3 separate regions of the Homo sapiens genome follow, and all the other regions are linked to region 1. The links come from fine-mapping of genetic effects on gene expression. A gene starts in region 1. Each other region holds a variant in brackets. All regions are shown on one strand. Distances are between the middles of the regions. Region 1 holds the start of FBXO25 (F-box protein 25). Region 2 overlaps FBXO25 (F-box protein 25). Region 3 overlaps FBXO25 (F-box protein 25).

The links.
Region 2: its variant is fine-mapped to the expression of FBXO25 in prefrontal cortex (BrainSeq, PIP 0.95).
Region 3: its variant is fine-mapped to the expression of FBXO25 in whole blood (INTERVAL, PIP 0.95).

The regions. Positions count from the first base shown.
Region 1 is chr8:401,262-412,346 of GRCh38, reverse strand. It overlaps FBXO25 (F-box protein 25), which reads right to left and starts at 5,389. Exons shown (of 10, transcript NM_183420.2): 1 at 5,281-5,389. RefSeq lists a silencer at 5,257-5,666 and an enhancer at 7,768-7,827.
Region 2 is chr8:471,166-482,250 of GRCh38, reverse strand. It overlaps FBXO25 (F-box protein 25), which reads right to left. Exons shown (of 10, transcript NM_183420.2): 10 at 4,284-11,085. Among named protein-coding and RNA genes, the nearest start is that of TDRP, 68 kb to the left of the region's middle. RefSeq lists enhancers at 2,203-2,702, 2,703-3,204. The variant A/C (reference allele first, on the strand shown) is at 6,455.
Region 3 is chr8:462,181-467,180 of GRCh38, reverse strand. FBXO25 (F-box protein 25) reads right to left here. Exons shown (of 10, transcript NM_183420.2): 9 at 4,031-4,174. Among named protein-coding and RNA genes, the nearest start is that of FBXO25, 58 kb to the right of the region's middle. The variant C/GC (reference allele first, on the strand shown) is at 1,987.

The sequences.
Region 1 (11,085 bases):
CAAACAGTACTTGAAGACTGTCTGGAAACGTGAGGAGGAAATCAAGGAAGTTATCTAGATTTTGTTTTGTAGCCCCTGGATCTGGGATAAGACATACAGAAGGAACAGCAGGGTTTTATTAGGAAAGGAGAGATAAGGGATATTAATTTCAGCTTAGGACATGCCTGTTCAGTTTGAAATACCAGACTCCAGGTATAAAAATTATGACTTAAAAAATGATGCAACTTCGTGATTAACTTCATGACGCTCACAATTTGATAAGAGTGAGACTTCAAATGCTAGTTCTTCCCACTGACTTGATTTCTGCTCCTCTTGATCAGTGGTTTTCAACTACTGCTGTGCATTAACATCACAGGAAGCTTTTTAAACATTCAAGTGCTTAGTCCCATCTTAGTTCAGTTAAATATGAATATTTGGGGGTGAAGGCTAAGTTTAAGTAGTTTTTAAAGGTCCACAGGTGATTCTCATACACAGTGAGACTGTGCATGAGGCTAAAAACCACCTCAGATGCTCACACTGCTGATTCAAAATGTCACATCCCAGAAAGGCTCCCTGACTCCCCGTCCAAACAGCGCCCTTCTGCTGCCTCAACCCCCTCCCTACCAGTCTAAGCCATTATCTAGTGCCTTCATAGTTGTAAGGGCTGTCTGAAATGATTAGCGTGTTTATCATCTGTTTTCCTCCAAGAAAATGCAATGTCTTGTTCAGGTCCGTATTCCATTACCTTGAACAATGCCAGGAAAACAACAGGAGCTCTATAAGTATTTATTTACTGAATGAATAAATATATACATCCATGGTTCAGAAGAGAGTTAGACTAGAGAGAAAGAGGAAAATCATGAGCATTCAGACACTAATCAAAACCACACAAATAATATCACAGAATATGTCGAGAGGGAAATCAAGAGAGCCAAGAAAAAAACCCTAAGAAACATCACCATTTAAGGGATCGGCAGATATAAGCCAAGAAGAAAAACTGAAAAGGAAGAGCCAAAAAGGTAGAGGGAGAAGTAGGAAGTCAGGAGAAAAATGTATTTCAGGAAAGAAATGGTCGACAGAGACGAAAATGTTATAAAAATGCCAAGCATGGCAAGAGTTGAAAATATACGTTGAATTTAGCTACAGAAAGGTAGCTGAATTACTCAAGCAAAAGTGGTTTCTGTAATGTATTACTTTAATTTCACGTCCCGAACAGACTTGAGTATTTTATAATATAGAATATTTATATCGTAGAGAAAAATGTAGAATATTTACATCATGGAGAATAAATGAGAGATGAACATCTCCAAACACCACCTCCCAACTATATTTAGTATAATTAACAAAAAACAAGCTATTAAATGGGCACTTATACAATCCTAGAAGATACAGAAAAAAAAGGAAGGAAATTACATAGACTTCAACAATATTCCTGGATCAACCACAAATGCTTAATTCTTGACTGGTGTAGGAAATGATGAAGTAATTATTCTTTACACGAAGAAAATCTCAAACCTTGCTAAACTGACTTATAGTCAGAACATGTCTTTTTCAGTCACATAATGATTAATTTAAATTCTTGCTTTAGAAAATACTTTATTCCTTAAATTTCAGCACAATTTTGATAAACTTTGTCTCACAGAACTGCTTCACAACTACTGAACATCCTAAAATGCAAAACTCAATGCCCATGTTCAGTCGACCTAAAGTTATCTAAAACTGTCTCTAATAGCATACAGCTGATTTTATGATTTTCAAGAACATTCCCACCAAAGGCAGCAAAGACCATGAAGTAGCAGATGACTGAAGTGGCACCTTGAGTCTCATAAAACACATTCAACAGAAAATGGCTGCTAGGAACATCTCTGATAATTATCAAATTATCTCTCAATATCAACTTGAAACTGTGGATTCAGAAATCTATATTAAAAAAAAAAATCAAGTGGATAATCCTGAAAAATATTGCTAACAGACCAAATACAGGATTACTTCAACGACAAACATTTGAGCACCAACTACATGTTATTATGCTAGATGTTCCTGCCCTCAAAAGTGTGCAATTTAGCTAAGGAACTAAAAAAGAACAATAGCAAAACACACACAAATTCCATACAAGTGTAATATAATAAAGTGTGTTTACATGTAGATATGTGAGTGTGCATGTATACATACATACAGATATGTCCACAATCTTGTAACTTGTGGTAAAGAGAGAATAAAGTTAATTTGAGCAGAAAGCAAATCAGCTGGGAAAGCTCTGACTAGAAACTAGGACTCGATCTTCGCCCTGAAGCATGGTTAGATCTTAAATGAATGGAGAGGCAAGGCAAAAAATATCAATCATGGGAATGGTGGGTGAATAAGTATAAAGGGCAAAATGTGTGCCACAGTTTGAGAAAAATAAGCAGAAAAGATGGGATAAAATGGAGAAAGTTTATCAGAGGACTGGTACATAAGCGACTAGAAGCCAGGTCATAGAAGAATATCAAAGGTGTTTAGACTTTATTCTGTCAGTAATTAAACGTTTTTCAGCAACAGATCAGCGTGAGCAGTGTTGTTTTGAGAATAATAATTTTCTAGGGCTTGTAGGATAGATCAAATGAAAAACATGGAGACAGAAAAAAACAACTAGGCAACAAATATCTTGCCAACAGAACCTTATCTGGATGACTGTCCTATGTACATCCCGGTATCCTCAGCTGAAAAAATATTTTAAAACTTGATGACACACAAATATTGTACTTACCTATTTAGACACTATGCCCACTCATCATTTAATACACTTATCTTCTAGTTTCACAATCTTTATAACATTTACATAAAGAGCCTGCCTACTGTTTCCATTAATATAACCAATTCTTTTACAACTACCTAAACTCTACAGATAATTCATTTTGGCAACTCAGTGAAAAATGAATAGTTTGGTCTGAATTTCTCAGCTGATAAGTTTGATTTTTTAAGGGTTGAAAGGAGTGAAATGCAGCCATGGAAATAAAAAAATAGTCCATGCCCAAAGGCTTATTTTCAACACAGAGGAAAAGATTTGTTTCTCTGAAGATGTGTGTGCTTCACAGATTTGTTATGGTATGCTCTATGGATCACAATGAAGTTTTTCTTAAAGCATAATCTATACAGCTCATGAACTAAAGCACAAACTCTGGATGCAGATTAAAAACAACACCACCAACAAAAAAAGACAAGTTGCAATTTAAAACGTCTGGGGTCTGGATCTCAAGTTTTCAAAAATACTCCCAAACTGAGGCTTCTGAGTTTGCAAATCAGAAAACAATGCTACTAAAGTTTTATAGAATGATGATGACCCACGGCTTTCAATGGGAATGTATTTGTTCAGCTAAAAAATGTGAATTGCTAGAGCTTTATACGCTTATTTTAATTAAAATTACCTTTATTTTGGGAATTTACAAACACAAAAAAACTAGAAATTACTCCTGAAAATTATTAAACTTTTAAGAGCAAGCACTCAAAGGGTGTAGCTTGTATAATTTGCAAATTTTAAGCACATTTTATGCCAACTTATTTCAGACAGCCTACAATGATTAACTATTTAAAATCTTCCCTTAATTTCTATTTCATGTGGTAGGACACGTGGGTGGGATACTTCAGTAGAAAAGGACTTCATGAAGTTCATTTGCTGGTGGAAACTCTTGGCATGAGAGACTCAGAACAAAAAAAAATGTCTTTCCTTCAACAAGCATATTTTTTCTTAACAATAATAATGGCAAACATTTATTAGAGCTTACCATAGGCTACGCATTACTCTAAACAATCTACATATGTTGTCTCATTTAATCCTCACACTGTCCTCCAAGGTAGAAAACATTATTCTTGTTTTACAAGTTTCATTATGTATTTTAAAGATGAAGACACTGAGGCAAAGAGTTCAGTGGAGCTGGGATTCAAAATGATGGAGTCTCACTCCAGGATCCATGCTCCTAACCACTATGTTTATAATAGCAGTTCCTGAAAACCCTATTAAAACAGATGCCATTAAATTATAAGCTTTTTAACTTTTTTTTTTTTTACCGTCTATTACAGATCACTAATATGATTTCAAGTAATGATGAACCTAAATACAAAGGCACTAAAACAAGGAATACAACACAGGAAAGAAAACTCCAATCCATCTTAAAAGACCACATGTGTTTCCCTATTTGTTTTGCTTATAAGTGTGGACAAATTTGATCCAGAAAGGACATTTTAAAAAATGGCAAACTGAGGGCTGAGAGTCAGAAATAAGTTGTACTCTAAGGACTTACAGATAATCACAGATTCCTCATGGGAAAGGTAAACACGTAAAGACGAGGAGAAAACAGAATATGAAAGAGTAAACGTCTTTTCTGATTAGGGCCGGATGGTAAGGATTTGGAGGCAGCAAGAGACAGCTTCATAAGGGAAGAAATGGTTCTCTAGATTCTTTAGTCTTCAAAATGAGTTTGAATAGGCCCAAGGACAGAGGTGGAATCTAATTGAGAAAAAGGTCAAATTGAGCTTACTGTGAGGGGAAGGATGCAAAATTAGTGTCTGCTGCAAGAAAAATAAGCATGGAAAGAAATTAAGGGAGGAGACAGAGACAGAGCCAGAGCCACAGACCAGGAGTAGGGAAAAAAAGGTAAGCAGCAGACGGGGCAGAGTGGCCTGGAGGAATGAGGGGTCACACCTAGCAGGTGCCCACCGGCGAAGAGGCAAGGACCGAGCCCGGAGGGCAAACGCCGGCAGGAGTCGTCCCCGAAACACCTTGCCCAGCGAGGCGGACACAAGCTCGGGCCTGCAAGACGGCCCAGGAGGGTGGGGGCGGGAAGGGGTCGCAGAAGGTGGGCAGGGGAAGCGGCTGAGGACGCGCGGTGCACCTGTGGGCGGCCCCCGTGCCCACCCGACTCGCCCGCAGCTCCCTGAATGAACCCTCCACACCCGCCGGCCGCCCCCAGACCCCACCTGACGCGCCCGCGGCCCATCGTCCCTACCTGACGCGCCCGCGGACCCAGACTTCAGCAGACGCGCACGCGGCAATCCCGTCCCCACCTGACGCGCCCGCGACAACCCCGTCCCCACCTGACGCGCCCGAGGCCCCCGGTCCCCACCTGACCCTCCCACAGGCCCCGTCCCCACCTGACGCGCTCGCGACCCCATGTCTTCCCCTGACGCGCCCGCCGCCCCCGGTCTTCACCTGACTCGCCCGTGGCCCGTCGTCCCCACCTGACGCGCCCGCGAGCCCCAATCTTCACCTAACGCGCCTGCGGCGCCAAGTCTTCACCTGACGCGCCCGCTGCACCCCGCACCTACCTAGCGCGCCTGCGGCCCCCAGTCTTCACCTGACGCGCCCGCGTCCCCCAGTGCCCAACGGGCGCGCCGGCCACCTGGGCCCGCACCTGACGGCGACCAGGCGGTTATTGCCGGAAGTGGGCCGCCGCCTCCCGGCGCGCCTCAGGGAAGCCCCGCCCCTGGCCATGCTGATTGGCCGGCGCGGATCCGCGTGGCAATGTTGCTGCCTGGTCCTGTCGCCCGCAGCGTGCGCCTGCGTAGTAGGCACTGCCCCTCCGTCCGCGCGCGTCCAGAGTGCCGGGCGTGGAGGCGTGGGGGCGTGGGGGCGTGGGGTGGGGCTCGGGTGCGCAGGGACGGGCGCGGTCAGTGCCTGAGATCCCTGCGATCGCTGGGAGATGACGGTGAAGACCTGAGATTTAGGCCTGCGCGGCGGGTGACGACGCCGGTCCGGGTCTTCACGGGAGGACGCTGGCCGGGGCCTTCAGGTGTTCTCGTGGCCTGAGGACGCGCGTCCCTGAGAATGTGCGTGCCCGCGCCGCGCGGGTCCCACAGGAGCCTGGGCAGCCCCGCCGCCGCATTTCCACCCTGCGGCCGTATTTCCACCCGCTGGGCGCCAAGCCCGGGATGACTGCACTCTAGGGCATCACTGCGCGCTCACACTCAGCATTCGGGCACAAGCACGTTCTCTTTATAAACAGTTTCGAATCTTGTCGAATCTTTCTAGAAGGTTGAAATGCCCTGGAGGAGCAGCGTGAATAGTTTTTTCCAATTAGGAAAAAAGAATGTGGGGCGGCTGGAGGGAGAGAGGCAGGCCGAGAAGGCCAGGTGGGTCCAGGAGCCGCAGCCCCCGTGCCTCAGTTTCCGCCTAGAAACATGGAGGTGGCGGTGCACGCTACAGGATTTCCATAAGAACAAATGAGTTAGCGTGTGCAAAACATTTAAAACAGTGTCTGGTGTGTAGCAAGCAAATATGAGTATTAGTCTTTTCCTTGTTAAAATGTGTGCATCTACATGTGGTGCACATTACAGGAAGTGTATAGTATGGATTCATATTTTGGAAAAGTAATTTTAGAAGTTATTTCTGAAGTGCTTATTATAATAGTGTTTCTTGACCACATGCTTTTAAATAATGTGAAGGCAATGAAGTAGGCAATATTGCTTGCACATCCCCAATTTAAACACCTGTCTGTCCCTCCTTCCCTCTCTCCGTTCTTTTCTTCCTTTCCCTCTCTCTTTATTCCTTCCTTCATTCCCTTCAAGGTTGCGGATTATTCTATTATATAAATGTATCAATTTATTAGAATAGTTTCTATGATGTCTATGATAGGTTTTAAATTGTTTGCAATAGTTTGCCATTATAAATAATGCCCAGTAGCGCTGTGGTCTGATTTAACTTGTGAAGGTATATTTCCAAATAAATCGCTATGATTGGATTGTTGTGTAAAGCAAAAAGTGTCTGAGGCAGATCACAACTGATTTAGAGGTTTATTCTGCCAAAATCGTGGACGTGTCTGGGGAAAAAGAAACACAGGTTACAGTAGGATTTTTGGCCTGTACTTTTTTCCAAATATTTAAGGGAAAAGCGCCGGTAGGAGGGGAAAGAGGGGAGAGTAGGCTATGAGGCAAGTGGTCACATTTTTGTGAGGCTCTGATTAGAGTACAGCAAATCTACATTTCACATGTGAAAAGAAAGGTATGGGGGAGGGTTATGCATCTGTCTCATACTCAGTAGATCTACATTTCACATAAGATAAAGTAAGCTTTTGGGAACAAAAAGAAGACTGCGTGTGTGTGTGTGTGTGTGTGTGTGTGTGTGTGTGTGTGTTTTGCCAATATTAACTTTTCCCTTTGGCATAGTAAGTTTGGAGGCCTGAAATTTTATTTTTCTTTCACTGATGTGTCAAGGTTAACTGCATATGGAATACTAGTAGAAATTGCCAAGCCAAGACCCCACCACCACAATGGGGGACATAGTAATATTAAATTTAGCCCAATTGGCTAGCATCCTCACAATTCCTAGTGAAAGAATTCCTGGATGGATGGTAAAGAGGTAAACAAACTGCAGAAACTCACAAAGCAACAAAAGAAGTCCACAGAGTAAGAGCAGGAATTCAGAGAGTAACCACAGAGAGATCCACAGAGTAACAGCAGAACCCACAGTGTAACATCAGAGCCCACAGAGTAACAGCAGGACCCACAGAATAATAGCAGGCACCCACAGAGTAACATCAGAACCCATAGTGTGATAGCAGAGCCCAAAGAGTAACAGCAGAGCCCACAAAGTAACGTCAGAACCCACAGAGTAACAGCAGAGCCCACAGAGTAACGTCAGAACCCACAGAGTAACAGCAGAGCCCACAGAGTAATGTCAAGAGCATATTCATGGTCTTGGGTCTTCTTTGTGTGTCCTTTCTACCAGGACTGGGCTTAGCTCTGTGCTTGTGAAGAGTAACCCACTCAGTGCCCTCGGGAATTTCACCACTGGAGGAGGAGAAAAACCCCAGAGGGGCGGGGAGAAATGCTTTTCAAAACACATGGTGCAGCTGGAGATTGTGGAGCAGTTGCCCGGGCAGAAGGCTCGGCAGGGGGAATTAGTGACCAGTAGGGAGGTGCCTCCCTAACCACAGAGATTTTTTGGCAATCAACTTGTTGAAAAATCATGTTTTAAAATTTTCTTTAAGTCAAACCCTACAGAACCTAAGGAGCTGGCTCCTCCTGGCAGGAAGCTGGGAGAGTGCTGGTCACAGTGCACCAGGTGCCCCCTGCCTCACAGGGGCTTAGGGTGGTGGTGAGCACAGGGGTCCCACGCTTCTCCAATGCACACCACACAGTCGTCTCCTCTGACCTTCCCAAATGCTGCACGGACAAGTGTATGTAGTCCCTAACTCTCAGGACAATGTAGACTTGGTATACCTTCGGGCACGGGGAATCCCATCCTTCTTCCTGTTCCTGCCGCTCTGAAGCATGTGGTGTATGTTTAATGGGGATTTTACACAATATGGGAAGACCACTTCTGCTTTCTATGCAGTGATAATACTGCAATAAGAAAAAATGAACCAAGCCACCAAAACAAAACAGTACCACCTGATGCAGAACTAGGAGGGAAACACAGCAGTGTCTCAGAGCTAATGCAGCAGCCAGGCACCACGACAGTGTCATGGGTACAAGGAGGAGGTGTCTCAGAGCTAATGCTCTGTGCTGACAGCAGCCAGGCACCACGACGGTGCCATGGGTACAAGGAGGAGGTGCCTGGTTTTCAGGAGCTTGCCATCTGAACAGACCCAAGGTGGCAAACACACAGTGAGAAAATGGGGCCATGAGTGCTGTAATTACCTACAGAATGTTTAGGGGGACTGGGAGCAAAAACAATCCCCTCTTTCAGAAACCAATCCTGGAAGGTGCTGGAAGGTTGTACTAGCTGTGAAAATCAGACGCCAGCAGGCAGCTATCGTGAGACCAAACGCAGTACTCAGCTCAGGCAAGCCGGTTTGCTTATTTATGTCAAATTTCTCAGTCTTGGGTCTCCTTATCTTTTAAATAAGGAGTTAGAATAGAATTTGAGGGCTGTTCACTCAGGCATCCATGGTGGCTGCAGCATAAGGAGTGTGTGGTGTCAGGATGGGAAGGGCAACATGGAGACTGCATGGCCATTGACGTCTGAAAGTCTCTGGTTGCCAAAAAGAATCTATGTACAACAGCATTCATCCTGACAGCAGCCAACAGGCAGCCTAGACCTGGCATGCCACAGCTCCTCTAGGCTCTGAACCCCTCTCAGCTGAGCCTGGTAGATGCCAGCTGACCGGCTGCAGCCCCTGAGTAGAGGTTGGCTGTCCTAGCAATAGCGTAGGGCGGGGGCACAGCAGACATGGGACCATCATCTAGATTCCTAGACGTGCAACTTCAAGTGAGTACATAACCTCCTGAGCCCCAGCTCTCACCTGAAAGCTGAGTTAGGCGCACACACAGGAAGGCAGAGATGGGTCCAGGGCTGGGCTTCTGGTTCCTCTACTCAAACTCTGCTGCTCCCTGCCCCTCTGCCATCCCTGCAAGCTCCTCACTGACCATGCTTGTCTCAAGCGTTCTCTCTTCCTCCTGACCTCCTGGGGACTTCATAAACCCAGTATCTTTTTAAAATAATCTATTATTTTAGGCTCAGGGGTACATGTACAGGTTTGCTATACAGGTAAACTCATGTCTGGGGGTTTGTTGTACAGATTATTTCATCACCCTACATGTACAGGTTTGCTATACAGGTAAACTCATGTCTGGGGGTTTGTTGTACAGATTATTTCATCACCCTACATGTACAGGTTTGCTATACAGGTAAACTCATGTCTGGGGGTTTGTTGTACAGATTATTTCATCACCCTACATGTACAGGTTTGCTATACAGGTAAACTCATGTCTGGGGGTTTGTTGTACAGATTATTTCATCACCCTACATGTACAGGTTTGCTATACAGGTAAACTCATGTCTGGGGGGTTTGTTGTACAGATTATTTCATCACCCTACATGTACAGGTTTGCTATACAGGTAAACTCATGTCTGGGGGGTTTGTTGTACAGATTATTTCATCACCCTACATGTACAGGTTTGCTATACAGGTAAACTCATGTCTGGGGGGTTTGTTGTACAGATTATTTCATCACCCTACATGTACAGGTTTGCTATACAGGTAAACTCATGTCTGGGGGGTTTGTTGTACAGATTATTTCATCACCCTACATGTACAGGTTTGCTATGTAGGTAAACTCATGTCTGGGGGGTTTGTTGTACAGATTATTTCATCACCCAGGTATTAGCCTAGTACCCAAGAGATAGTCTTTCTGATCCTCTCCCTCCTCCCACCCTCCAGCCTCAAGTAGGCCCAAGTATGTGTTGTTCCCCTCTGTGTGTCCATGTGTTCTCATAATTTAGGATATGAGGATAATGGCCTCCAGTCCCATCTATGTTCCTGCAGAAAACAGGATCTCATTCTTTTTTATGGCTGCATAGTATTCCATGGTGTATACGTACCACTTATTTTTTTTTATCCAGTCTATCATTTTTGGGCAATAGATTGATTCCTTGTCTTTGCTATTATGAACAGAGTAGTGTAGGCTTATAGTCCCGGCTACTCAGGAGGCTGAGGTGGGAGTGTTGCTTGAGCCCATGAGGCGGAGGGTGCAGTGAGCTGCGGATTGCAATGAACAAACACGTGCATGCATCTTTACTGTAGAACAATTTCTATTCCTCTGTGTATGTACCCGGTAACGGGATTGCTGAGTGGAATGGTAATTCTTTTAGCTCTCTGAGGAATCACGATACGGCTTTCCACAGTGGTTGAACTAATTTACACTCCTATCATCAGCATATAAGTGTTCCCTTTTCTCTGCAACCTTGCCAGCATCTGTTATTATTTGACTTTTTAGTAATAGCTATTCCGACTGGTGTGAGATGGTATCTCATGATGGTTTCAATTTGCATTTCTCTAATGATCATTGATATTGAACTTTTTAAAATGTGCTTGTTAGCCACATGTATGTCTTCTTTTGAAAAGCATATGTTCGTGTCCTTTGTTCACTTTTTAATGGGGCTGTTTGGTTTTTTTCTTGTAAATTTAGTTCCCTATGGATGCTGGATATTAGACCTTTGTCAGATACATAGTTTGCAAATATTTTATCCCATTCCATAGATGATCTGTTTTCTCTGCTGATAGTTTCTTTTGCTGTGCAGAAGCTCTTAAGTTTAATCAGGTCCCGTTTGTCAATTTTTGCTTTTGTTGCTATTGCTTTTGGTGTGTTCGTCATGAAATATTTGCCCTTTCCAGTGTCCACGACGGTATT
Region 2 (11,085 bases), 70 kb before region 1:
CGTCTTCCTGAGATTCTGTGTGCCTGCCCACTCTTCCTTGCAGAGTCTGAAAGTGCATTGCAGCGTGTTCCTCCGGCTCCCAGAATCGGACATCCGTTTCATCTTGGAGGAGCACATCCTGAATAAAGGTTATTCTAATTTTAACAGCAGCAAATGCTAAGCTCAATGGTGAACTAGAAGGGCCATCTCCCAGCAAAGCCTAATGCATCTTAGGAATGTGTGACCATTTATTTTTTGTTTTTATTAAAAAACCTTTTTAGAGACAGGGTCCTGCTCTGTCACCCAGACTGGAATGCAGTGGCATGATCAGGGCTCAGTACAACCTCCAACTCCTGGGCTCAAGTGATCCTCCTGCCTCAGTCTCCCGAAGTGCTGGGTTGTAGGCCACTGCACCCAGCCATTGTGACAACTTAGTGATTTTTCCCTTAGTGGCTCTGACACAAGAAGCAGACAGGACAGGATGGGGTGGAGGCTCATGGTCACAGTTTGAGTTTTTTCTCCCTTTAAAGTATTTTCCATTCCTGAGGCCAGTGGGATGAAGGAAGGGAAACAAATCACACTTAATCCTCAGATAGTGGTTAATTCTCATAATTAACCAGGTGTATTTCAATTTGGCTTTTTCGAGATGGGGGGGTTGACAAGCATTTCAGTTTTTAAATTTTTTTATGATGAAAAATAAAATCTATGCAAAAGTATGTAGTACAATGGACATCCATAAACTCAGCTACTGCGATTCAATAATGGTTGTATTTGTCATATTTGCTTTGTGTGTCCATACATATATTTAACCATTTAAAAGTAAATTACGGACACCGTATCACCCCCAAGTACTTCAACATATATTTCTAAAAAAAAAAAATGATGCTGCCTGCATAAGTAAATATGATTGGCACACCTAACAAAATTAATTTCCTGTATCATCTAATACATATATATATGTTCCCAATTGTCTGGAATGTACCTTTTAGCTGTTTTTTCCCAAAACCATGATCGTGCATCATATATGGCTGTTCTATCTCTGAAATCTTTTGATGTTGGAAACAGGAGCCCCCTGTCTCCCTTCCCTCGCAGCTTTTCCTGAACACACTGCTGTTTGAGGTGTTCAACTCACTCCTCCATCCTTAGCACTGCCTACAAACAAGAAATTGGATCTAAAGGCTCGGTTAATCCAAGCTGCTGCTTCCTTTCGGGGCAGCTCCTGGGCCCCTGTGCACAGCAGGGCCACATAGTGTCTGACATCCACCATTAGTGGTAACATTAGGCTCAGGTGGTAACAACTGGATCTTTAACCTGGCTCCCCTTATTCCTTAAGCATCTCTCAGTTGTGCCCTCTCTACGCTTCTCGAGGGCTGTGTCCTGGCACCTCTTCTGCAAGCAGAGAGCCAGGGATGTGGCCCGCCACCTGGGACAGGTACCTGCTGTACTCCCTCTCAGATCCAGAAAAGAGGTCATAGCAGTGAAAATGCAGGTGAGACCATTTGATTCCACCCCCCAACCCGCCTGCAAATGTAAGCAGCTTTGTGGGAGGAACTAGTAAAAAAATTTGCATGGGAATTGGAAACATCCTAACCACCTTGAGATCAGACGACACTGCTCTGTTTCCATGCTACAGGGATCCTGTTAAGTGTGACCTGTGTCACAGACCATCGCCTTCCCCTCGGTAGATGCTGAATTGAGGAGGAAGGAGAGGAGAGCTTGAATGAAGGCTGCATTAGTGCACGTGGCTCACATAACAGCCAAGATGCTACAGAGCCCCTTGCTTTCCTCACTAAGGGGTAGCATGATTGTGTGACCTTTGGTTATAAAGCTGTGTGAAACTCAGTAAGTCAAACTTAATTCAAACTTCAAGCCATTGGAACTTTACTCTGGCCTCCAAAAGGGAGGAGGGAAGGAGAAAGGGGACAAGGGTTGAAAAGCTACCTATTGAGCACTACATTCGCTGTTTGGGTGATGAGTTCAAAAGTAACCCAGACCCCACACCATGCAACATACCCATGTAGCAAAGGGGCACATGTGCCCCCTGAAACTAAAATTTAAAAAAGCACTCAAAAAATATTGAGTCTTGGAAGGAATGCAGCTATGCAGCTGGAGCCACGGAGCATACAGCTGCAACCTCTGCCTTTCTTTCCCTATAAACGACCAAATGCATCAGAGATGAGGCCCCTGAGATCACTGCTCCTCACTTTGTGGAGTGCAGCCATCTGTAATGGGTCATATTGCCATAGCGCACACACTGGTCTGTGGAAAACGGCAAGACTCTGCGATATCTCGGCTCCTGCCTATATGAGTGAAGCCTTAACTTTCCACTGTGGAACGCTGACCCTGTTTGTGTAGAGCCCATCCCCCAGGTGGCCATCCTCAAAATGTGTGCTTGAATGTGCTAGACACTTCCCCGTATTTTCTGAGCCTCTTCATTTAAGGCTGACAGCTGATAAAGTTGCACCAGCTGTCCATCAGGTAGATGAGAGTCCAGGGCAGTGCCCAACTCTGTGTAGACATGGGGGCCCCAGAGAGGTGCCTGTCTGGGTTATGTACAGAAAAACCGGTTTGCTAAAGAAGCTGGTGTTTTGAAATGTGACACTTAAGTTTTTAGAGGGAAAATGTAGTAATTGGGGAGCGACCGCACCTCCGGCTATCCCCACGCATGGCTATCCTTTCAGCCACACGTGTGGCACAGTGTGTGCGCCGTCTGCTGGAAGAGCAGGGTTTGGGGAAGAGGTTAACAGATAAGCAACATGAATGGCGCTGAGCCCGTTGGAGGGGCACGGGCAGTCCTGAGTGAATGTTACATAGGAGAGCCAGGGTTGATGTGGCTGCAGCCTCGTCTGCTCTCACACCAGCAGGTGAGTGTTAAAGGCAGGCCTCCTGCTGGTGGGCTTGTTTTCTCCTGGCATGTGTGCCTTGGGAACATGCTGCTTTCCTTTGTGCCTTTCTCTGATTCAAAGACTGGTTTCATCACCACTGAAGGGCATGTCACCTTTATGAGGTATTCCATTCTCTAAGTTTTGGTTACTGTATCTCCAAGACCTGCTGTTTCATGGCAAATCTCCATCCACTGGGTTTCTGATTATGTTTGAAGCTTATCATCATCATGCTGGCATCTTTGCCTTTTGGTGACCAACTGTTATCTTACCAGTGAGTGGTTTCATCTTTTTCAAGTGTGTCTGACAGTAACAGTGACCGCCCCCCACCCCGGTACTATAAGGCTGTCAGTTCGGGTGGATACTTAAATATTTATGTATTTTTTGAGACAGGGTCTCACACTGTTGCCCAGTCAGGAGTACAGTGGCACAAACACAGCTCACTGCAGCCTCCACCTCTGCCTGCTGAGTAACTGGGACTACACGTGTGCCACCATGCCTGGCTTTTTTCCTTTTTCTTTTTTTTTTTTTTTTTTTTTTTGTAGCGACGAGGTCTTGCTATATTGCCTAGGCTGGTCTTGAACTCCTGGGCTCGCTCAAGCAATCTCTGGCCTCGACCTCCCCAAGTGCTGGGATTACAGGTGTGAGGGACTGCACCTGGCCGCCATTTAAGTATTTAGAAATTAATGTCCCAGCATGGTTTTTCAGAGTTGCAAAGATATTTTCACTTACTTACTGATAAAGGGGTAGAGTTTTAGCTTTTGATAAAGGGGTAGAGTTTTAGCTTTCATAAGAAGTGAGGCTATTGATCCCTTTGACGTTACTTCTGTTTAGAGTTTTAGGAAAATATTTTTAAAAATTTAGATAATTTATTTTCAAGAAAGCTGAACAAATCTGGATGGTGTGGGGGTGATGGGAAATACCATTTGAGTTTTGAGAAGTGATTTTTTTTTTTATTCTTTGGAAACTAGTGTTTACAGAAATCTCTTCTCCCTAGAGACTTTAAAACGTGCTATTAAGACAGAAGGATATGGTAAGAATTTTTATTCTGTAAGAATCTTCAAAGCTCAGCATGAAGATACACATCTTTCCCATGGGAATCCAGGCTAGAGAAATGCAAGAAGGCGGTTCCCTCTAGAGTCTCCTTTCCTGGGAGATGCAGCTCCAGATGGGTGGGTTTCTGGGCAGGAGGGGAGAGGAGGGTGGTGTTTATTCAACTGTTTATTTGGGATCATGTTATGCGTCTTCAAAAAGCGATATAAGAGAAAATATTGGAAAGATATTTCAAAATAAGAATTACCTTGAAGTAATTCCCATAATTAATGGGTAACATTTTTGTGTATGTATTTTGGCTTTTTATTGTAAAAATAATGTATTTTCATTGTAGAAAGTTTTTTTTAAAAAGTAACGAGTACAAAAAAGTAGTGTTATATAACTTTTAATGGAAAATGTCAAATAGATACAAAAGTATAAATCAGGTTGGCAAGTGAAATACAGGCCAAAATTGGGCCCACCAGCTGTTTTTGCACAGCCCAAATGTTAAGAATGATTTTTACATTTTTAAATAGTGAAAAGATGTAAAAGGGTAATATCTAATGACATAAGAAAAGTATGTGAAATTCAGATTTTATTGTCCAAAAAGTTTGGAACACAGCCACATGCACTGGTGCGTGGCCCCCTGGTGGCGGCTTCATGCCACTACTGCCAAGTGGCAAGAGAGCCCCATGGCTGGAAAAGCCAACAATCTTTACCATCTGCTCCAAGCCCTGCTTCACTCCCCTGTGTGTACCTATCCTTGCAGCCTCAAATTCCCGGCCAATCTTGTTTCATTTATAGTTACTCCCAGCCCCACGGATTCAAAGGAAATCCCAGACATCCTATAATTTCATCTTCATGTTGAAATTTAAAAAGTTTGAAAATTCACCAAGATGTAATATATATGCACCAAACATCAGAGCCCAAAATATATGAAACAAACATTGACAGAATCAAAGGAAGAAATGGATAGTTCTACAGTAAGAGTAGGAGACTGCAGTAGCCCACTTTCAGTAACGGATAGGACAACCAGACAGAAGATCAGTCGCAAGACAGAACTTGAACAGCATCATACCAGCTGGACCTAACAGACACAACAGCAGTACACACGTTTTTCTCAAGTGCAAATGGACCTTTCTCTAGGATAGACAGTATGTTAGATGACTAAACAAGTCAACAAATTTCAAAAGACTGAGGAAATAAAATATCTTTTCTGGCCACAGTGGGATGAAACTAGAAATCAGTAACAGACAAAAAACTGAAAAGTACACAATTATGTGAAAATTAAACAACGCTCTCAACCAGCAGATTAATGGGGAACTCACAAGGGAAATTAGAAAATATCTTGTGGTAAATGAAAAATGTAATATACAAAAAAACAGGTACAGTCAAAGCAGTGGTAGGAGGGAAATTTGTAACTGTAAATACACCTATTAAACAAATTAAGATCTCAAGTCAACCCTAAATTTACATCTGAAAGAACTAGAAAAAGAAGAGCAATCAACCCAAAGCCAGCAGAATGGAGATGATTATAATAATAATAAAGATTAGAGCAGAGACAAAATAGAGAACAGAAAAGCAATAGAGAAAAATAAATGAAACCAAGAGTTTGTTGATAGCTAAGAGTGACTAAGAAAAACAACTAAAAACCAGGAGGAGACATTACAACTGATTTTACAGAAATAAAAAGGATTAAGAGTACTATGAGCAATTACATATCAAAGAATTGGATAACCTAGATGAACTGGACAAATTCTTAGAAACACACAGCCTATCAAGATTGAATCATGAAGAAATGGAAAATCTGAACAGACCTATGCTAGTCAAGAGCATGAAGTAGTAAAGAAAAGCCTCCCAAGAAAGAAAAGCCCAGGGTCATATGGGAATTCTGGCAAACATCTGAAGAATTAAATCAATTCTCCTCAAACTCTTCCAAAAAACTGAAGAGGAAAGGACACTTCCAAATGCATTCTATGAGGCCATCATTATTCTGATACCAAAACCAGACAAAGACACTATAAGAAAAAAACACCACACATCAGTATTCCTGATCAAGATTTTTTTAAATCAATATTCAACAAAATACTGGCCAACAGGATTCAGTGGGACATTGAAAGGATTACACATCATGGCCAAGTAAGATTTACAGCTGGTATGCAAAGATGTTTCAACATGCTCAAGTCAATAAATGTAATGTCTATTACATTAATAGAATGAAGGAAAAAAATGTGATCTCCATTGATGGAGAAAAAGCATTTGAGACAATGTCATGCCCTTTCATGATAAAAACTCAACAATTGGGAATAGAAGGAAACAACCTAAAATAGAGGCCATATGAACATCCCACTGTAAACATCATATTCAATAAGACTGAAAGGACTTTAAGATCAAGAACAACACAGAAATACCCTGTCTCACCACTTCTGTTTAACACAGTACTGGAGTCTTAGAGCAGTTAGGCAAGAAAAAGAAATAAAAGGCATCCAGACTGGAAAGGAAGAAGCAAAATTATCTGTTTGCAGATGACATGATCTTATATGTAGAAAATCCTAGTGTCC[A/C]TACATATACAAAAAAAAATTTCAGTAACACTGCAGTTTACAAAATCAACACAACAAATCCATGATATTTCTATACAATAACAAGCAATCTCAAAAGGAAATTTAAGAAAATTCCATTATAATAGTAACAAAAAAACTGAAATATTTAGGAATAAACTTAAGGAAGCAAAAGACTTGTACTTGAAAACCATAAAACACTGCTTAAAGAAAGTAAGGTCAACACAAATAAATAGAAAGCAATCCCGTGTTTATGGATTGGATACCTTAAGATGTCCATAGTCCAAAGCAATCTATAGATTTCATGCAATCTCTATCAGAATATCCCAGTGGCTTTTTTTTTTCCATCCTGAAACTCATATGGAATCTCAAGAGACCTCACACAGCCAAAATCATCTTGAAAGGGAACCAAGTAGGAGGTCTCTCACTTCCTTATTTCATAACTTACGACAAAGCTACAATAATCAAAATGGTGTTGTATTGAAACAAAGACAGTCATGTAGACCAATGGAACAGAATAGCAAATCCCCAAATAAACCCTTGCACATATGGGTCAAATGATTTTTGATGGTGCCAAGACCATTCAAGGGAGAAAGGACAGTCTTTTCAACAAATGGTGCTAGACAAGTGGACATCCACATGAAGCTAGATCTACCTCACACCATATATAAAAATTAAAATAGATCAAAGGCCTAAACTAAGAGCTAAAACTAAAACATTTAGGAGAAACATAAGGGAAACTTTTAACAACATTGGATTTGGCAGTGATTTCTTAGATATGACACCAGAGGCACACACAGGTAACTAAAAGAAAGAAACAACTTCTGTACATCAAAGAACAAAACAGAGTGAAAGGCAATCCACGGAATGGGACAAAGTATTTTAAAATGATATATCTGAAAAGGGTGAGGCAGTGATTTCTTAGATATGACACCAGAGGCACACACAGGTAACTAAAAGAAAGAAACAACTTCTGTACATCAAAGAACAAAACAGAGTGAAAGGCAATCCACGGAATGGGACAAAGTATTTTAAAATGATATATCTGAAAAGGGTGAATACCCAGAACATATAAAAACACACACCTGATTGAAAAATGGACAAAGAGCCCAAATAGACATTTCTCCAAAGACGACATATAAACGGCCAACAAACAGATACTCAGCATCACCAGTCATTACGGAAATGCAAATCAAAATCTCAGCAGGATACCACTTCACACTCATTAGGATGGCAATTATTAAAAACAGGTGTTGGCAAGGATGTGGCAAAACTGGAACCTTCAGTGGGAATGTAAAATGGTGCAGCCACCGTGTAAAACACTTATGGCAGTGCCCTAAGAAATTAAACATAGGATTGCCATATGATTGAAAGCAGAGACTCAGATATTTGCACACCCATGTTTACGGCAGCAATATTCACAATAGCTAAAAGGTGGAAGCAACTCAAGTGTCCTCAACAGATGAGTACACAAACAAAATGTGGTCCATCCATAGAATCAGCCTTAAAAAGAAATCTTGACATATCCTACAACTTGAATAAACCTTGAGGACATTACGCTAAGTGAAATAAGCCAGTCACAAAAGGACAAATCCCTTCTGGTTCCACTCATACGAGGTCCCTACAGAAGTCAAATTAAAAGAGACAAAGGAGAACAGAGGCTGCCAGGGGCTGGTGGATGGGGAATAGGGAGTTGGTGCTTAATGGGTACAGAGCTTCAGTTTTACAAGATGACAAAAGTTCATCTTGTAAAGTTGAACTTGTGGATACGTGGTAGAGAAGGTTGCACAGTATGAATGTATTTAATGCCACTAAATTGCACACTTAAAATAGGTAAGATGGTAAATTTCACGTGTATTTTAACATGTCAAATTCTTTTAAATGACATTAGAATTGACTACATAGGTTAGATAATAAAAACCAACTTGCCTTCATCTGTGCAAGTTTCTCAAATGATTATCAAATAAAAATGAAATTTCCATGCAAAAACGAGACAGTTGAGGTGTCTCTTCTATTTGACACAGATGTCCTCATTTTTTTTGCTCTCCCTTACTTAGGAAGAACAAGAGCATTTCAAAGAAACCGCATCCTCAGTGAACGCTGGTTATGGTCCAAGAGCCAGCCCAGGACCCCTGTGGCACCAGCAGTGCCTTCTCCTGCTTGCCCCTCCAGCTGGTGCTCTGGGCATCTCTGTTCTTTGTCACTCTGTGGATTTGAGCCAGTGAGGATTGGAAGGAAGAGGACCAAGTACAAAAAGGACAACTAGGAGGGTTAACAGCCTCTCCTAGGCATTCACGTGAAAAGCAATGGCAGATCCACGTGGCCTGTATTGGGGCAGGTGCCCTGGGGAGCAACTCCTTCATCTCACAGATGCTGAGGGCGAGAATGGCAGCAGCCATACACTGCCTGAGTTTAGAGAGGACTGCTGGGGGTGCATGTGCAGGTGCCACGTTACCACCTAGAACACACTGTCTCATGCTGTGAGCCAGGGCTTTTTAGGCACACAATGATGCAGTTCCTGCTGAAATTCTGAAGGCAGAGGCTACACCTGAGCAGCTCCTACCGGCTCAGTGGCATTTAGCCCATGGGACGCGGGGGGACACTGCTTTCCAAAGTTGAGGGTCTGCCTCCTCTATGCAGAAACAACAGGAAGGGATAAGGAGTGGGGCTTGAGTGAAGACAGAAGCAGCAATTCTGTTGAGATACATATGAGTGCAGGGTGGATGCTGGTGTCAGCCATAGAGGGCCCCAATGGCTGGTGCTGGTTAGTCATGTATGCAGGTCCTTCTTTTTCCTCCTACCTGTTGCTAATCCCTTGGCTTTGCCATTGGGTAGCATTTGATAGGGACTAAAGGGAGGTGAGTGGTGTCCATCACGTGCACACATCATAATGAAGAGAGGGAGATTAAAAAGTCGAGTTTCATAAGGCAGGCTTGCTTCTGACTTTTCTCAGAGGGCAGCACCCCTTCCTTTTGATAATTCTGAAGATAAGCAGAACAGACTAGGTTTCACAGTCCACTTATCTACTAAGTTAGGCCTTCGCAATGAAAAGAAAAACCATTAAAAGGCATCTCTGGAGAAAATGGTCTTATCCTCTTAAAGGATAATTGAAGCTTCTCAGTGACTTCAAATCTTATATGGAGTTCTCTCAAACATTTAAAGAAGAATTAACAAGAAACCACCACAAACACTTCCAAAACACAGAAGAGGGAACACTTTCTAAGCTTATCCTATGAGATGGACACCAAAACCCAAGAGATCACAAGGTGGTGGGTGGCAGGTGGGGTGGGGGTGGGGGTCTTGGAACCAATCCCCCGTGGATACAGAGGGCTGGCTGTTCCAGCACACCAAATCTAACAGCTATGTATAAAAGGTATCATAAACCATGACTTAGTGGGCTTTGACCCAAGAATGCAAGGTTGGTTCAAGATATAGAAATCAGTCAATGTAATAACAGCACATGATCTTATGAAGGCCAAAAACTACATTATCTTAAGAGATGCAGAAAAAGCATTTGACAAAATCCACACCCTTTCACGATAAAAACAAACTAGGAATAGAAGGGAACCTCCCCAACCTAATAGAGGGTATGTATGGAAAACCCAGGGTTAACATCATAGTTAATGGTGAGACTGAAAGCTTTCCCCTAAGATGAGGAACAAGACAAGGATGTTCACTCTCGCACTGCTATTCAACATTGTACTAGAGATTCTAGCCAGCGAAACGGGGTAAGAAAGAATAAAGGACATCTAGACTGAGAGGAAGAAGTGAAACTGTCTATTCATAGATGACATGATTTTGTACACAGCATCAGGAATCTACAAAGGTGTTAAAAGAGCTGATAAATCTTATATGACAGTTTGGTTCTAAAAGCAGCACTTAAGGCAAAAAACTGTTCACAGATGGTTAAATTTTTTCCATAAAGTAGACACAGTTTGCTGTGTACAGCCCTGTACAGTACGCACACACAGTGCATACAGAGAGCCTGTACGTCATGCAGTAAACCACGACAGCTACAAATCGGTCTGCTCCTGAGAGGCTACTGCATGGCTTTCCAATTTGTGTGTATTCATAAATTAGGTGAGGAATGTGACTTTTTGACTCAAAATAGGCAAAAGGAAGTTGTAACTGGGTGTCAAGAGACACCAGCCCTGAGTGAGCAGCGCAGACTGAGAACAGGTCCGAGAATGACTGGAGATTCTATCTTGAGAGTGTCTGGCATTGCCTTTCACAGGAGCGATGGGCAAGTGAAACTTACTACCTGGCTTTAGGCTCCTGGGGTCCTGAATTATCTACTTCATTGTAATGAAGGCATCAGAATGTAACTTAATCTCACAGGAGTGGCATCCCTACTTTTGGAAGGCCCCCTGATAGAAACTGTATTCAAAAATACCATTCCAAAGTGGAGATCTATGATTTCTCTTCTCATCTCTGTTTGGTGTTGTCCGATCTTCTGTAAATAACTGATCAGTGCCTCAAAATTGTCTTTATTCTGTCCTTATACCCTCCATTAACCTTTCAATCTCTCCCCAGCAATGTAAGCCATCCCTGCTTACCTGCCCAGCTCCCACAGCTTGTCCCTCGAACGCACCTGCAGGAGGCTGTGACCCATGCAGTGGCAATGCGGCTAGCTG
Region 3 (5,000 bases), 58 kb before region 1:
AGCAGCTGCCCTCCTGTGCTGTTCTCCCCCGCTGGTTCAGGATGCTACTAGCAAAGCGGTTCCCCTGCAAGACCAGGACCACCAGACCATGGACACCTCATCTTGGATTCTGGCTCCAACTTTGCTCCTGATGTCCACACAGGCCTGTGGGGTGAACGTCAGATGGCCAGCCCTCTATTCTGGCAACTGATACACCAAGAAAAAACAGGACATAAAAAGGCCAAATGCTCATCATGGCTTCCCTGACCCAGCCAACAAGTCTACAGTTTTTAACTGAGGTTTTGTACAGCCGGGAGGTAACGCCACCCCTCTCAGTGGACCCTCGCAGGGCCATCGAAGTCAGTCTTTGGCTCCAGAGCTTAACTCAGCCCAGTTACTTACAGACTGTGTGGAAGGCTGACTAAGGCAGGTAGAAAAGTTAAAAAAGAACTCCAATATAGTAGAGCCACAACAGATGGGAAACCAGCTTGGGAGCAGATGAAGTGGCTCCACAGCACTGCTGACTGGAGAGCTCCAAGCTTATGTACTGTGGGAAGTGATAAATACCAGATGCAGACCTGAGACAGATGCACCATGGTGTCGGCTCATGACCAAGTCCCAGGGCCAGAATTTAGAGTCAACAACACCCAGTCTCATTTTCTTAACAGCTTTGATATTACTTTAGTTTCTCAGTCAACACAAACTACTGGGATGCTAAACAAACAAAGAACAAGCAGTGACCCTAACCCTAAGTGCCATTTTCTGAGCACCAGCTATGTGCCAGTTTCCAGGTGCAGGACTGCTGAACATCCACAGCTCCTCTGTGTGGTGGGTCATGGCGTCAAACCAAGACCCTAGGAGGGGCAGCAAGCTCAGGAGACCCCGGAGGCAGGTCCAGGTCTGCCTGACTCCAATCTGGGTTTGGCCCACCAGGCCACTCGCCTCTGGTTAGCCACACTGGGCAAACCCACGGCGGAGGAGATGGAAGACAGGGCAAGAAGTACCTGACATCTTGAGGGGTTAAATTAGGAGAGATGGCTCTTTTTGAATACTTCCAATGCATGGATTCAGAACTAAAAACGTGGACTGCCTTCTAGAATGATATTCAGTGGGAGAAGCTGTGATGGGACCACTCACTGTAGCTACAGTGAAGTGGACATCACAGCCTCCAAGGGCAAGACATGAACCTCCCAGAACTAAGAGATGGGCAGCTGTCCTTCCTAGGAGAGACTTGTTCTCAATTTCCATGATATGATCAAGTATGATAACAAAGTTCACTAAATACAAGAATGGCAAAGCAAATTCTTTTGGAAGGCTACATCATCTCTCAATTTAAAAAAATCAGAAATTACATATTTCAGGAAACTAAGGCAGCATATTCTTATATACATGGAGCACCTGTAATCCAAAAATCTGAGATGCTCCAAAATCCCAAACTTTTGAGCAGTGACATGATGCCACAGTGGAAAACTACACATGTTAAGTAACACAAACTTTGTTTTATGTATAAAATTACTAAACCATTGTATGAAATTATCTTCAAGCTCTGTGTAAATGAAACAGATGAAAAAAATCTGAAATCTGAAACACTTCAAGTCCCAGGCATTTCAGATAAGGGAGACTTGATCTGTACTGCCTAACAATGTGGAAGCGAAGGACTGTGTATTTCTTTGTTAGTTGCTCAGCAGACAGGGAGAGCTCCAATATTGATAAATATTGTTCTAAGAAAAATACTACCACATACAAAACTGAAAGCCTTCTATCCCTTCTATGAATGGTATTTTCCCTATAAAAGTATCATTGCTTGTAATAGTTCTATAGTACAAAACAATCTGCTCAGGAGAAAAAAAGACAAGTAACTCTTAGGAGAAGCACTAACTCAAATTAGAAACTACAGTATTGTGTCCACTCTTACTCTGTGACTGAAGACACAGTCACATGTTTTCAGTGTTAATATTTCAGAGAAGAACAGGTGTCAGTCCTAGAAGGAATTACACAGAAGGGGGG[C/GC]CCTGTTCCCTCCAGGGTCAGGTGTCAAAGCTGGCTGGGAACCTGGACTTCACTCAATCGGCCCCTTTCCTTCTGTCCACAAGCATCTGCCTGTGGCTTCTACTGCAGACAACTCACCCCCATACTGTGCCTTCTGTGCCCTATAACTGGGGAGAAAAGAATAGAATGAGGGTTCTCTCCTGTATATCCATAATCTTACTGATGAACTGATTTGCTGACTTCACCAAATCGAGAATAAACTGGAATCAAGATGTTCCCTGCTCTTGAGGGATAATAGTCTACAAGACAGTTGTACTACTGCAAAAACACATAACACAACTTGCATCTTTTTAATTTCAGGAAAGAGAGAAGTCATACCAAAATATAAAACAATAAATCAGAAATAAAATCTCATATTCATGTATGATGCTGTTTACCTTTGATATACCAAATAAAACTATTAAAATAATACAAGAAAAACACATCTTTACATTCTCTGCTCAACCACGGATTAATTTTTAAAGCCACACTTAGAATAAATGTAATTTGAAATGAAAAAATGAAAAGCAGTTGTCTCTTTCCGACAACCTAGAGTTTGCCGTATGACCTATCTGATAACAAATATAGATAATGTAAAGCAAAAAAAGTAATCACAAAAGGTTATGGTGTCTATCAGGCAAAAGCCTCATCTCCCTAGACCTAGAGAAGGCAAGAGGCAGAGACAGCCCACTCTTGCAAGAGGCAGGGCCTCATCTAGACCAGGGACAGTCAGAGGACTCCCTCCGCAGAGCAGCCAGCAGCTCAGCAGGGTCACTCCAGGACCAGCTTATGCCTAGTTTCAACATTTTTTTTCCCCCACGGTGAAATCTCACAACATAAACATGTTCAAACGCAAGGCAAACCATGGAAACACACTCCAGGGTGAAATAATATTAACATGTTAAGAAAAAAGTGGATAATTGCCGGGTGCCATGGCTCACGCCTGTAATCCCAGCACTTTGGAAAGCTGGGGCACATAGATATTGCTTGAGCTTGGGAGTTTTGAGACCAGCCATGGGTAACACGGTGAAACCCTGTCTCTACCAAAAACAAACAAACAAAATCAGCTGGTCCCAGCTACTCAGGAGGCTGAGGTGGGAGAATCACTTGAGCCCAGAAGTCGGGGCTGAAGTGAGCCATAATTGCGCCACTGCACCCATAACTGCCTGGGTGACAGAGCAAGATGCTGTTTCAAAAAAACAAACAAAAAAAAGAAGTGAATTAGCTGGGTGTGGTAGCACCTGCCTGTAGTCCCAGCTACTTGAGAGGCAGGAGGTAGAGGCTGCAGTGAGCCGTGATGACGCCACTGCACTCCAGCCTGGGTGACAGAGCGAGACCCTATTTCAAAAAAGAAAAAAGACAACAAAGAAATAAGCAGTTACCTCTCTGACTGTGAAAAACATTCTATTTAGACACACAGTCTGGATGGTGAGAACAGGAAGTAACTGGATGAAGGGATGAGACTTGCAGATAAGTAACGATAGTCTTGTTAAGTTCTGATCATATGAATGAGAAAAATGCAGATTTTAAAATCTAGGACTTCTCTATGGACACTTTTTTTCTAAGAATGTGGCTTTGAGAAATGAAGCCTAAGCTGGTCCTGGCCCTGCAGAGTCGGTGGGGACATAAAGGGCCGAGGGCTAAGTCTGGGGAAACGAGGAAGGTGCACTTGTCCTCAGATGGGCAGAGGGGTCACACTCCAGCCTTCAACCTCAGGCTGGGGGCCAGCAGGGAATCTGGAGCTGCTGCCAGGAAAGGTCACTGGCTGCAATCCGCCTGCAACGCCCTCCTGCATGCTAACTTCTGCAAAAAGGAGAAGCATTTTGGTTTTCAGCGTTTCTGGTTTAAGCTACACATTGAATGAACATCTGTTCCCCTACCCCAATATTTGGTAAAATATATCTCCTTAACTTACTTATAACAAACAGTATTTTCCGCTTTTTAGTCTTATACTTAAAATATAGGTGATTAGTTTGTTTCACCAAAATTTAATCCTGAAATTCCAAGAGTGCATTTAAATCAGTACCTTCCAAAAGAGAATGCTGCAGTGCCGACAGAAATGCAGTGTGTCTCCGTACTGCTCCTTCGCTGGGTAATGTTTCTGAAGTGCAAAGTACATCAACTTCCATTCAATATGACCTTTTTCTGAAAGGATCAAATGTCTACAAAACTAAACAAACAAAACTCCATTCAGAATCCGCATAAGATGACTTTCAAAACATAATATTAGGTGTAAAACTTTTTCATTTTATTTTAGTTTTTAATTTCTTTTTTTAAACTTCAATAGCTTTAGGGTTACAAGTGGGTTTTGGTTACATGGATGAATTGTACAGTGCTGAAGTCTGGGATTTTTGTGCTCCCATCACTGGAGAAGTATGCAGTGACCCAACATGTAGTGTTTCATCCCTCACCCTCCTCCTACCCTTCCCTCTTCTGAGTCTCCAATGTGTATTATACCTCTCTGAATGCCTTTGTGTACCCGTGGCTTACCTCCCACTTATAACTGAGAACATATGATATTTGGTTTTCCATTCCTAAGTTATTTTACTTAGAATAATGGCCTCCAGGTCTATCTGAAATTATTTTTCAAAGGCAGTGTAGTACATAAAACAATTATTTGAAATTAAACTCACTTGGGTTAAATCAATAAGTGACAAATCAAATAAATTGTGTTATGCCTGTATAATGGAATACCAAGCAGCTGTTAAACAGACTTAAATACTCCAATCCAGAATAATGTCCATAATGTATTATTAAATTAAAATAAGCTACACACATCATATGTGATAACAGACTTATATCTAGAATAGATAAAGAACACTTACAACTCAATAATAAAAAGACAAATAACCCAGTTTAAAAAATGGTCAAAGGACATGCAAAGACATTTATCTAAATAAGTCTCAGAAATGGACGATAACCTCATGAAAAGATGCTCTAGAATCCAGTCATCAGGGAAATGGAATGAGACCCACTTCCTGCCCACTAGAATGGCT